Linked DNA regions of Homo sapiens: region 1 is linked to region 2. Evidence: fine-mapped expression QTL. A gene starts in region 2. The other region holds a variant in brackets. All regions are shown on one strand. Distances are between the middles of the regions.

The links.
Region 1: its variant is fine-mapped to the expression of OLFML2B in whole blood (TOPMed, PIP above 0.99).

The regions. Positions count from the first base shown.
Region 1 is chr1:161,987,017-161,992,393 of GRCh38, forward strand. The region is part of intron 6 of OLFML2B (olfactomedin like 2B); the gene reads right to left. Among named protein-coding and RNA genes, the nearest start is that of OLFML2B, 34 kb to the right of the region's middle. The variant G/A (reference allele first, on the strand shown) is at 2,906.
Region 2 is chr1:162,021,243-162,026,619 of GRCh38, forward strand. It overlaps OLFML2B (olfactomedin like 2B), which reads right to left and starts at 2,627. Exons shown (of 8, transcript NM_015441.3): 1 at 2,015-2,627. The coding sequence starts at 2,188. RefSeq lists silencers at 2,739-2,888, 2,957-3,251.

The DNA.
Region 1 (5,377 bases), 34 kb before region 2:
GTCTCACACCAAGGCTCTGCAGTGGCAGGGCCCTAATGCTGGGCTATAGATGTGCCCCAGGCTGGGGCCAGAGGCCTGGCTCTGCTCTTGGCCCAGCCACCAACTCCAAAGTCTGTTGCAACTGTAATGTCAAAAAGTTTTAATCTCTTCAGAAGTAAAATGATTGTAATGCATGCCCTGCCTCCTTCACCAGAGTGCATGGAGAGTCCCCTCTGAAGATGATGTGGTAGACTGAGTAATATACCCCTGAGATATCCAGGTCCAAATCCCTGGAGCCTGTGATTGGGACAAAAGGAAACAAAGGGGACTTTGCAAATGTGATTACATAAAAAAAATCCTGAGATGGGGAGACTATACTGGACTATCTGGGTGGTCCTATTGAATAAATACAGTCACAAGTATCCTTATGACACAGAGGCAAAGGGAGATTTGACCACAAGAGAGGAGGAAGCAATGTGATGAAAAAAGCAAAGACTGAAGTGATGTGGCCACAAGCCAAAGAATGCTGGCAGCCATGAGAAGCTGGAAAAGGCAAGAAACGGATTCTCCCCTCAAGCCTCTGGAAAGAACCAGCCCTTCTGATACCTTGATTTTAGCCCTGCAAGACTCATTTTGAATTTCTGGCCTCCAGAACTGTTAGAGAGTACATTTCTGTTTTTAGCAACTAAGCTTGTGGCAATTTGGAGGCATAGGAAATGGATACAGATGGAGTCAGCTTCTTGGGTTAGGGCACCCTTATTTCTGCAGGAAGAGGGGAGTCCCCGCTTGCATTTTCATAGTCCTAGTACTAGGACCTCAGGCTGCATTTTCACATGCCCTCAGAGAGAGCAAACACTGCTGCCCTGCGGATGAGCCCAGGCAGGACAAATGCAAATGATTTCAGAGCATTTGAAGACAGGATCAAGGGAAGAGATCAGTAAACCATGAGACCCAGACGCATCACTGTGCTCTGAGAATCTGGGGCAGCTCAGATGCTCCCACACTTGGCAGCAAACCATCAGCTTTGGAGAGAAGGTACTGTATGTTGACTCCTCTTCAAGGGGGATGACAGAAAGATGGGAGAAAGTTCAAAGGAACTGCAGACAGGAGAGTGCAGTCTGCATCTCATCTTAGGTTTTCCCAGAGCAGGGCTGCCAAGGATGCCGGTGACACTGACATTTACTACGCACTTTCTATGTATTCTGTCGTTTAACCAACAGTCCTGGGAGACAGCTGGTCCTGTTTCAAACGTTACCAGGGTCTGAAAAGAAGGGGCCCTTCCCCTCAGCATATAAACCTCCTCAAATCTCAGCATTCTAAAAGAAATAAATCAGCAAGCAAGAGCCTTCCTGGCTCTCCCCAGCTCTCAGCTCTGGTGCTTACTTGGCAAGCTTCCCCAGTAGGGTCCTTGGGCGTCTGCTCCCCAACTAACCTCGTCAGCAATGCCTCTCAGCCCCTCAACCCGACTGCTGCCCCTTGGGGTGTTCTCCAGTCCTCTTATTCTAGTCAAGCCTCTGTTTTTTGCTTGGAAACTGAGGTAGCCACCCCCCACCCCCGCTGACACCCACCCACCCACCTCAGAAGGCATTTCCTTCCTCCCCCAGCTTCCACCACCACTCTCTCCTGGTCCCGCCCACCTGCCTGGTCTGGCCTTCTCCAGCTCTTTGGCTAGTGCTTCCTCTTCTGCCTGCTTTCAAATGCCACCCTCTGGAGTTCCACCTTCAGCCTCCTCCCTCCTCATTCTTCCTGCAGACTCAGCTCCTGCCAACAACTCAGCCCAGGTCCTGATTCTGAGCACCGTGAATCCATCCAACTACCTACAAGGCACTTTCTTTCTGGATGTCCTCATGGCTCCTCAAACTTAAAGGACTGAAAATGGAAATCATTTGCTTCAGTTCACAGCCTGCTCCTCCTGTATTTACTGTCCCAGAGAAAGCCATGGCACACCATCCACCAACTGAGCCAGAAACCTAGGTCATCCCTGATGTCCCCTTTCCCTTCACCCACATTCCAACTCAGCACTGAGTAACATCTTGACCCTGATCCTCCACCTCTATGGCGTAGTTCAGATCTCACCAACTCTTGCCTGGATCACTCCAATTGCGCCAGTTTGTCTCTCTGGCTCATCTCTGCCCACTTCTAACTTATCCTCCCCAGTATTCCCTGTGCTGCTTTTCCAAGATGCACATCTTCTTAAACCCTTAATGACTCACCATCTCCAACCACCAAGTGCAGCCCAGAGTCCCCATCCTAGCACATCAGCCCTTCCTGCATCACCATTCTTACTGTTGTCATCTGCCTTCATTCAGAGGTCTCAAACTCAGATGCCTACAGGGGTCAGGCAGGAGCTGAAATGATGAGTCAGGCTGAGTGTGAGACAAAAGGTGGCAGAAGACACTGTGGTGAACTGGAAGAGCTGACCTGAAGGCATTCAGATTCAAGAACATAAAAACACATCTTAGGATGAATTTGGCCCTCAGGCTGCCAGCTTGAGATCTCTTGCCCACACCTAGCTGCTTGTATTCACCATAGTTGCCAGGGCTATGGTATTCACCGTAAACCCAGGGCTGGCTTTTTGGGCATATGATCTGTGCAATCACACAGGACCCTTGCTTTGAAGGGCTGCCCTTCATTTAATGATCTGCTGTCACCATCTTGAATATCTTAATATTTTCACCCTCGAACTTGTATTTTATGTGAAGTCTAACAGTGCAGCCTGTTTGTGAGCAGAGGAGAATGCAAGATATGTGTGGCCACATTCTTTGTCCCCCACTTGCATATAGGGTTTGCTATGCCCAATGAGCACAGAATTGCAGGTAGACCCACTACGTGCCTGAGTTCAGTGAGATTCAAAGTGAGCACAAGGTAGGTGTGTTGCCCCAGAGGCCACATTTTACATTTGAACCAGATCGTGCTCCGAAAGCAG[G/A]AAGAAGGCAGTGGTGTTCTAAGAAACACAAATGGTCAAGGAACCCTATCATATTCTTTCTTGTGTTACTTCCCTGTATTAGACAACAACCTATGTTGAAATTGATACGAAAGAAGAGGGAAGGATAGGGCAACTCATAGTTCCGTTTCTTTTTAGTCCTTCCTCACTCAGTAAGCTGAAGGCAGGGAGTGTTGTTAAAATGTTCATATATCAAGTAAAACAAAAACAGATGAATTAGTTTTGTGCAGTATTTCCACTATTCTAATAAGAACATACATACACAGGTATGAAGGAGTTACAAAATATGAAATGAGTCATTTTGGTGGATTCTGCATAAAAGTTGAAAGATCTTATATTTGCATTTAAAACTAACATTGCACAATATAAAGATGAATTGTATAATTCATGCTAGTAAATTAAATTTTTAATACAGGCATACCTCAAAGATATTGTGGATTTGGTTCCAGACCACTGTAATAAAGCGAATATCATAATAAAGTGAGTTTCACAACTTTTTTGTTTCCCAGTGAGTATAAAAGTTATGTTTACACTATACTGCAGTCTATTAAGGGTTCAATAACATTATGTCTAAAAAATGTATACACCTTAATTTAAAAATACTTTATTACTAAAAAATACTAATGATCATCTAAGCCTTCAGTGGGTCGTCATCTTTTTGCTGGTGGAGGGTCTTGCCTCGATGTTGATGGCTGCTGATTGATCAGAGGAGTGGATGCTGAAGGCTAGGGGGCTGTGGCAATTTCTTAAAATAAGACAACAATGAAGTTTGCTGCATCAATTGACTCTTCCTTTCATGAAAGATTTCTCTGTAGTGTGTGATGCTGTTTGATAGCATTTTACCCCATAGTAGAACTTCTTTCAAAATTTGAGTCAAGCCTCTCAAACCATGCCACTGTTTTATCAACTAAGTTTATGTAATATTCAAAATCCTTTGTTGCCATTTCAACAGTGATCACACTGTCTTCACCAGGAGTAGGTTCCATATCAAGAAACCACTTTCTTTGTTCATCAATAAGAAACAACTCCTCATCCATTCAAGTTTGATCATCAGATTGCAGCAATTCAGTCCCATCTTCAGGCTCCACTTCTAATTGTAGTTTTCTTGATACTTCCACATCTGCAGTGACTTCCTCCACTGAAGACTTGAACCCCTCAAGGTTATCCATGAGGGTTGGAATCAACTTATTCCAAACTCCTGTTAATGTTGATATTTTGACCTCTTCCCATGAATCATGAATGTTCTTAATGATGAATCCTTTCCAGAAGGTTTTCAATTTACTTTGCCCAGATCCATCAGAGGAATCATTATCTATGGCAGCTATAGCCTTACAAAATGTATTTCTTAAATAATAAGACTTGAAAGTCAAAAAGACTCCTTAATCCATGGGCTTCAGAATGAATGCTGTGTTGGCAGGCATGACAGCATTCATCTCCTTGCACATCTCCATGAGAGCTTTTGGGTGATTAGGTGCATTGTCAAAGAGCAGTCATATTTTTAAAATAATCTCCTGGCCAGGCGCGGTGGCTCACACCTGTAATCCCAGCACTTTGGGAGGCCGAGGCAGGCGGATCACTTGAGTTTGGGAGTTTGAGACCAGCCTGGCCAACATGGTGAAACTCCATCTCTACTAAAAATACAAACAATTAGCTGGGCGTGGTAGCATGTGCCTATAATCCCAGCTACTTGGGAGGCTGAGGCAGGAGAATCACTTGAACCTGAGAGGCAGAGGTTGCAGTGAGCTGAAATCGTGCCACTGCATTCCAGCCTTGGTGACAGAGCAAGATTCTGTCTCAAATAATAATTTCTTTTTCTGAGCAGTAGGTCTCAACAAAGGGCTTAAATTATTCAGTAAACCATGCTGTAAAAAGATGTGCTATTATCCAAGCTTTGTTGTTCCATGTATAGAGCACCAGGAGAGTAGATTTGCATAATTCTTAAGGGCCCTAGGATTTTTAGAATGGTAAATGAGCACTGGCTTTGATTTAAAGTCACCAGCTGCATTAGCCCCTAACAGAAGAGTCACCTTGTCCTTTGAAGCTTTGAAGCCAGGCACTGACCTCTCCTCTTTAATTATGAAGGTCCTAGATGGCACCTTCTTCCAATGGATGGCTGTTTTGCCTACACTGAAAATCTGTTGTTTAGTGTAGCCACCTTCATCAACAATCTTAGCTAGATCTTCTAGATAACTTGCTACAGCTTCTGCATTAGCACTTGCTATTTCACTTGCATTTTTACATTATGGAGACAACTTCTTTCTCTAAATCTCACGAACCAGCCTCTGTTAGCTTCAGACTTTTTTCTGCAGCTTCTTCACCTCTGTCAGCCATCATAGAATTGAAGAGAGTTAGGGCCTTGCTCTGGATTAGGGAATTTTGCTTAAGGGAATGTCGTGGTTGGACTGTCTTTTTATCCAGACCACTACAACTTTCTCCATATCAGCAATAAGGCTG
Region 2 (5,377 bases):
ATGCTTCTGAACCTAAACCCCAGGCCAAACCCAGGAAAGCAAACTGGCAGCACTTGCTGCTTTTGCAATGCTAAACATTTCCTTCTGGGCACTTGCCCCTGCCAGCCTCCCCAGGCAGGAAAACACGCGACAGTAGGCTTTCTGGAGCCCCAACTCTGGGCGCTTGCTGGGAAAAGGCTCTTCTCTCCCAATCCTCTCCAAAAGGCCCTACATCCCCAAAGCCAGGGCTCCCTTCCTAGGCAGGCAGAAGGGTTCCCTTCATTTGATTAATGATTTCAGTGGGCAAGCATTGAGCTTGTTTGAGTAGAAATGTTCCTTGGGATGCTGTCTGGGGGAAGAAGACTTGTAATGTTTTCCTTGCAAAGATTGGGTTTCTTCTAATACTAATATTTGCTTTAGGGCTGTTGTCAAACACAGAATGGATCAGTGGAAGAAGGTGGTGTAGTTAAGGGTGACTTAAGCGGCTGTTCTTTACGGGCTGATAGTAAATTGTGGCTGTCTGCTCTCTGAAACTCTGCCTGGATTCCTACATAACCCTGCTCTGAGAACCCTGGGTGGATTCCTTCCTTACAGGAGGCTCGGGTTTCAGGAAAGTTTTTGTTGATAGTGTTCCAGAGCCCCAGTGTGAGAGATTTTTATGTCTTTTCGATTTAGGGGTCAGTGGGAGGTAATGGGGGGGCAGAGGGCATACATTAGCATCATTATTAAAGGAAGAGTGAGGAGGCTAGTGTTTGATAAATCCCAAAGTGCAGCTGATTATTCTCTCTACAGGAAGGAGACAAGGCCCAGTCCTAGGGCTTGGTGGAGGTGAAGGTACAGGCAGCCCTGGAGGATCCTTTTTCAGACATCCCCCATTCTGAGGATTCTGGTGACACCCACCACACGTCATCATGCCGGCTCTGGAGAGCACAAAATAAACACTCCAGAGAGAACTACCCCTTACAGACATGAGATCTGGGCTGAAGACTGTCAGACGCCCTGGCTCTACCCATGTATCTCTTCTTTTTTTTTTTTTTTTTTTTTTTTGAGACGGAGTCTCACTCTGTCACTCAGGATGGAGTGCAGTGGCGCGATCTCCGCTTACTGCAACCTCCACCTCCCGGGTTCAAGCGATTCTCCTGCCTCAGCCTCCTGAGTAGCTGGGACTACAGGTGCCTGCCACCACGCCTGGCTAATTTTGGTATTTTTAGTAGAGATGGGGTTTCATCATATTGGCCAGGCTGCTCTTGAACTCCTGACCTCGTGATCTGCCCGCCTCGGCCTCCCAAAGTGCTGGGATTACAGGCGTGAGCCACCGCGCCCGGCCTACCCATGTATCTCTTATGGTCTTTATCTATAAATGGGTATTAGGGTGTTTTGAAGATTGAGTCAGAAAAAACAAGTTTAAGTACTTGGTAAACGGACACTTTACGAAGCCCATCACTATCATGGGTTACTCGGGCCCCCACTGACAGTCTGCCCTAGCTGCCTGCATCTGCATTCCCACTCTCCCCTCCCAGTACACTCCGTCATGTTCTCAGTCTCTCTGTTTGGGGGTCACCTCACATTCATCACACATGCTTCTGTTCTGACTTCACCCCATGCTCCCGCCTGGTGTCCCACCCTCTGCCATAAAGTATCTCCCGATGGGATATGCCATCTGCCTCCTGGTCAACATATCCGGCTGTTTTCACATTCCAATTCTGACAGACAGCCACATAGACAAGAGATACTTTTTACAACCCTGAAACCAAAAACAACTTTGTTTTCTTTCTTCTCAAGAAGTCGAGCGGCATCTTCCCTTCCTTCACCTCTCCTTTCTCCTGATTTGATGACCTTTAAGCACCCTATGATTTTGCGAGGAGAACCTATATCCTTCCATTAAGAAAATATTCCGATACATGAAAAATCAAAAGCCCTTTCCATTGGTAATGGAAGGAAAAACAGCTGCCCTCAAACACTTCAGCAAGGACCAGCTTCTGGCTCTCACCACCATCCAGGGCAAGAAGGGCGGTCGTGGCACTCTGCATCCTACCTGAGATAAAACGTTCTCCTGGTTGTCCGCCTCGTTTTGCAGAGTCTCGTCCTCCGCAGGCGCCACTGTCTGCGCATCTGGGGGCTCGCTTGTCCCTGTGAGGACAATGCTGGACACCCAGGCCGGAACCACAATCAGAGCGAAGTAGAGAACTAGCAGCCGAGGCTTGGCCATGAGGGGCGCGATAAGAGTGTCCTCAGCCCCTTCAGAGAATGGCTGGGGCGGGGGGTCTCGGCAAGGACTTCTGCGAGAGGGTGTCCTCGCTAGAGCCCGAAAGTGGCTGCTGAGAGCACCTTCTAAAGCTGGGTGCGGCTGAGCGGGACGGGAGGGTGCGCCCCAGAGACTCTGGGCATCTCCTTCCCGACGCGAGCAGCCCTCGACTGTGCAGCCCCAGTGGAGAGCCGGACGCAAGGAAGAGGGGATGACGGAGAAGGTGGAGGCGGGCACGGGCTAGCTGAGCGAGTCGCCCGCAGGAGGGCTCAGGTGGCTGGAAGGCGTTCGGACAGACGCCCGCGGTGCGCGCCGGGACGGGCGGCGGGGAGCCTCGGGACGCACGGGGACCGGACACGGGGAGGGAAGAGGCGGTGGCGGCGCGGGCTGCTGGGCGAGGGCTGCTGGGCTAGGGAGCCGCGGAGAGCTCGCGCGGAAGGAGGGCGGAGCCTCTATTGTGCCGGGGCGGCGGAGATGCAGCCAGTGACCGCGCGGAGGAGGAGGACCTGGAAGCGCACAGGGCTCGGGCGGAGGGGTACCCGGCGGACCCCGTCCCCGCTGGGACTCAGCTGCCGCGCGCCGGCTGAGGGTGACGTTGGAAGGGCTTTACTTTCTTCTCATCTGATCGCAAGTGAGTGAAGAGAAGTTACTCCGAGCGGCGTCCCTGAAGTTTTGGGGTTCGACCATTCTTGGCGAGAAGAGCGACTTTCCATCGCAGGCACCCAGCGCTCGCTCCAAGGCTGAGCTAGTTAGGGATCTGCGGCATCGTCCTTTAGCACACCTGGGGCAGGGGAGAAGGCGCGTTTGTTCCCAGGCGTTTCTTTTCCCTGACTTAACTCTGGGCGAGTTCTCGGGCAGCTTTGAACTTAGCGCCGTTGGTAGCTGCTTGCCTGCCACGGCTTTAGAACCTAGTAATACCTCCACCCAGAGGAAAATCATTGAATTCCTTCCTAGAGTGTGTCCTGAGTTGTGTAAACGTTGAAAGTTAGGGGAATGACTGTACATCTCCGACACTCTCCGCGAGTCCCCATGGGGAAAGCTACTGCCTGATAAATGATTACCAAAGGGAACAGCTCTTCCTGTCTTCCTGGTTTGGGACAAATCTCCGGGTCTCTGTTACCAGATTATCTCTAAGAGGGAGTCCACTTTCAATAGTGTGCAATTATGTTACTATGTCCCTCAATTACTGAGGACAACCTTTTATAAACCTACAGTGAAGATTACCAATATGTGAATTTAAGGAAGGGCACTGTGCCATCCTGGACAACTGTCACTCGGAATATTGAACAGAGCCAGGCCCCTTCAAAGGATATTATGCACCCTTGGGAAATTCAAACACCTTGCTTCTTATGCTGAGGAATAAGGGTTGTAATAAACTAAGGAAACTAGCGCATATAAGTAATAGTTGACATAAGTATAATAATAACCCTTATTAGTATATTTTAATCTTCAAAAAATTCAGTTTATGGACAAAAATTCAATGCTCTGGGTGTCTAGGTTTGTGGGGACATCATGCACACACCCTCCTCTGTGTAAGCTATCAAATCTTTTCTGAAACTATATGGGGGTAAACATTGATAAAATGTGGTGTATTTGATTGTTTGTTTGAGACAGAGTCTTGCTCTGCCACCCAGGCTGGAGTGCAGTGGCGGGATGATCTTGGCTCACTGCAACCTCCGCCTCCTGGGTTCAAGTGATTCTCGTGCCTCGACCTTCAGAGTACCTGGGATTACAGGCGCACGCCACCATGCCCGTTTAATTTTTTGTATTTTTACTAGAGTTGGGGTTTCGCCGTGTTGCCAGGCTGGTCTCGACCTCCTGGCCTCAAGCCATCCATCCGCCTTGCCCTCCCAAAGCACTGGGATTACAGGGGTGAGCCACTGTGCCCCACCGATAAAGTGTAGTTTTAAAATTCAGTTAAGGGGCGGAGTGTGGTGGCTCACCCCTGTAATCTCTACTGAAAATACAAAAATTAGCCTAGCCTGGTGGCATGCACCTGTAATCCCAGCTACTCTAGAGGCTGAGGCAGAAGAATCGCTTGAACCCTGGAGGCAGAGGTTACAGTGAGCCGAGATCCGCCACTGCACTATAGCCTGGGCTACAGAGCAATACTTGGTCTCAAAAAAAAAAAAAAAATCAATTACAGTAAGCATTGAATGTTGATTAAGTGCAAGACAACAAGCTAGGTTGCTAGACATTTAATGGGAAGATGAGATAGTCCACATCTTACAAAGTGGGCGTGGGAGTCAGGAGGTAAGCAGAACAAGCACTGAAATTGTGAGGCAGAGTAAGAACATATCTCATGGGGTTTAAATAAGGAATAGGTCACTTCTAGTGGAAAGGTCAGTGTGGATTTCATGAAAGCATGATACTGAAGATGACTGGGATGATGGGAGGTTTCAACAAAACAGTGGATAAGGCAACATGATGGGAGGGGGGGCCATGGCAGGGGAGAGAAAGAGAGCATTCTGGGCAAAGACATAATCCTGAATGTGCATATTCATATTTCAGATGGCTGCTCACTTCTCAGGGCAGCCTTCCTTGACTCCACCACCAGCATAATTTCTCTATTAAATGCTCCCATAATACCATGTACCTCTTTTTCATAGAAGCAGGAGAGATGGATATTTATATTCCTCCTTTGTGGGTTGTTTTGGGGGTGCCTGTCTTCCCCACCAGACTATAAATTCAAGAGGGCAAGGACCTTGTTAGTTTTGCTCACCATTACATCTTCAGAGTTTAACCAGTGCCTAGAACAAAGTGGACACTAAATAAATATTGGTTGAATGAATGGAAATTACGAATTGTCCAACTGGGTGTAGGCTCAGTTACCTTTATAAATACCATCTCTGTATCCATTAGGGTGCATTTGACTGCAAGTGATAGAAAATCCTTCTAGGAATGTCTCAGTCAAATATACATTTATTATCCCACTCTAAGAAGACAAGCTTGGCTGTTTAAAATTTAATTCAGCAACTCAGTGATGTCAGCGAGGACCCAAGCTCTTTCCATTTTCCACTCCATTATTCTTACAGCATTGGCTTTTTGACCTAGTCATAATTGATTTAAGCAAGTCCCAGCTACCCCTGTGCCAGACATTCAATTTCCCAGTCTCCTTTACAGCTAGGGGTAACCACCCGGACAAGATATTTT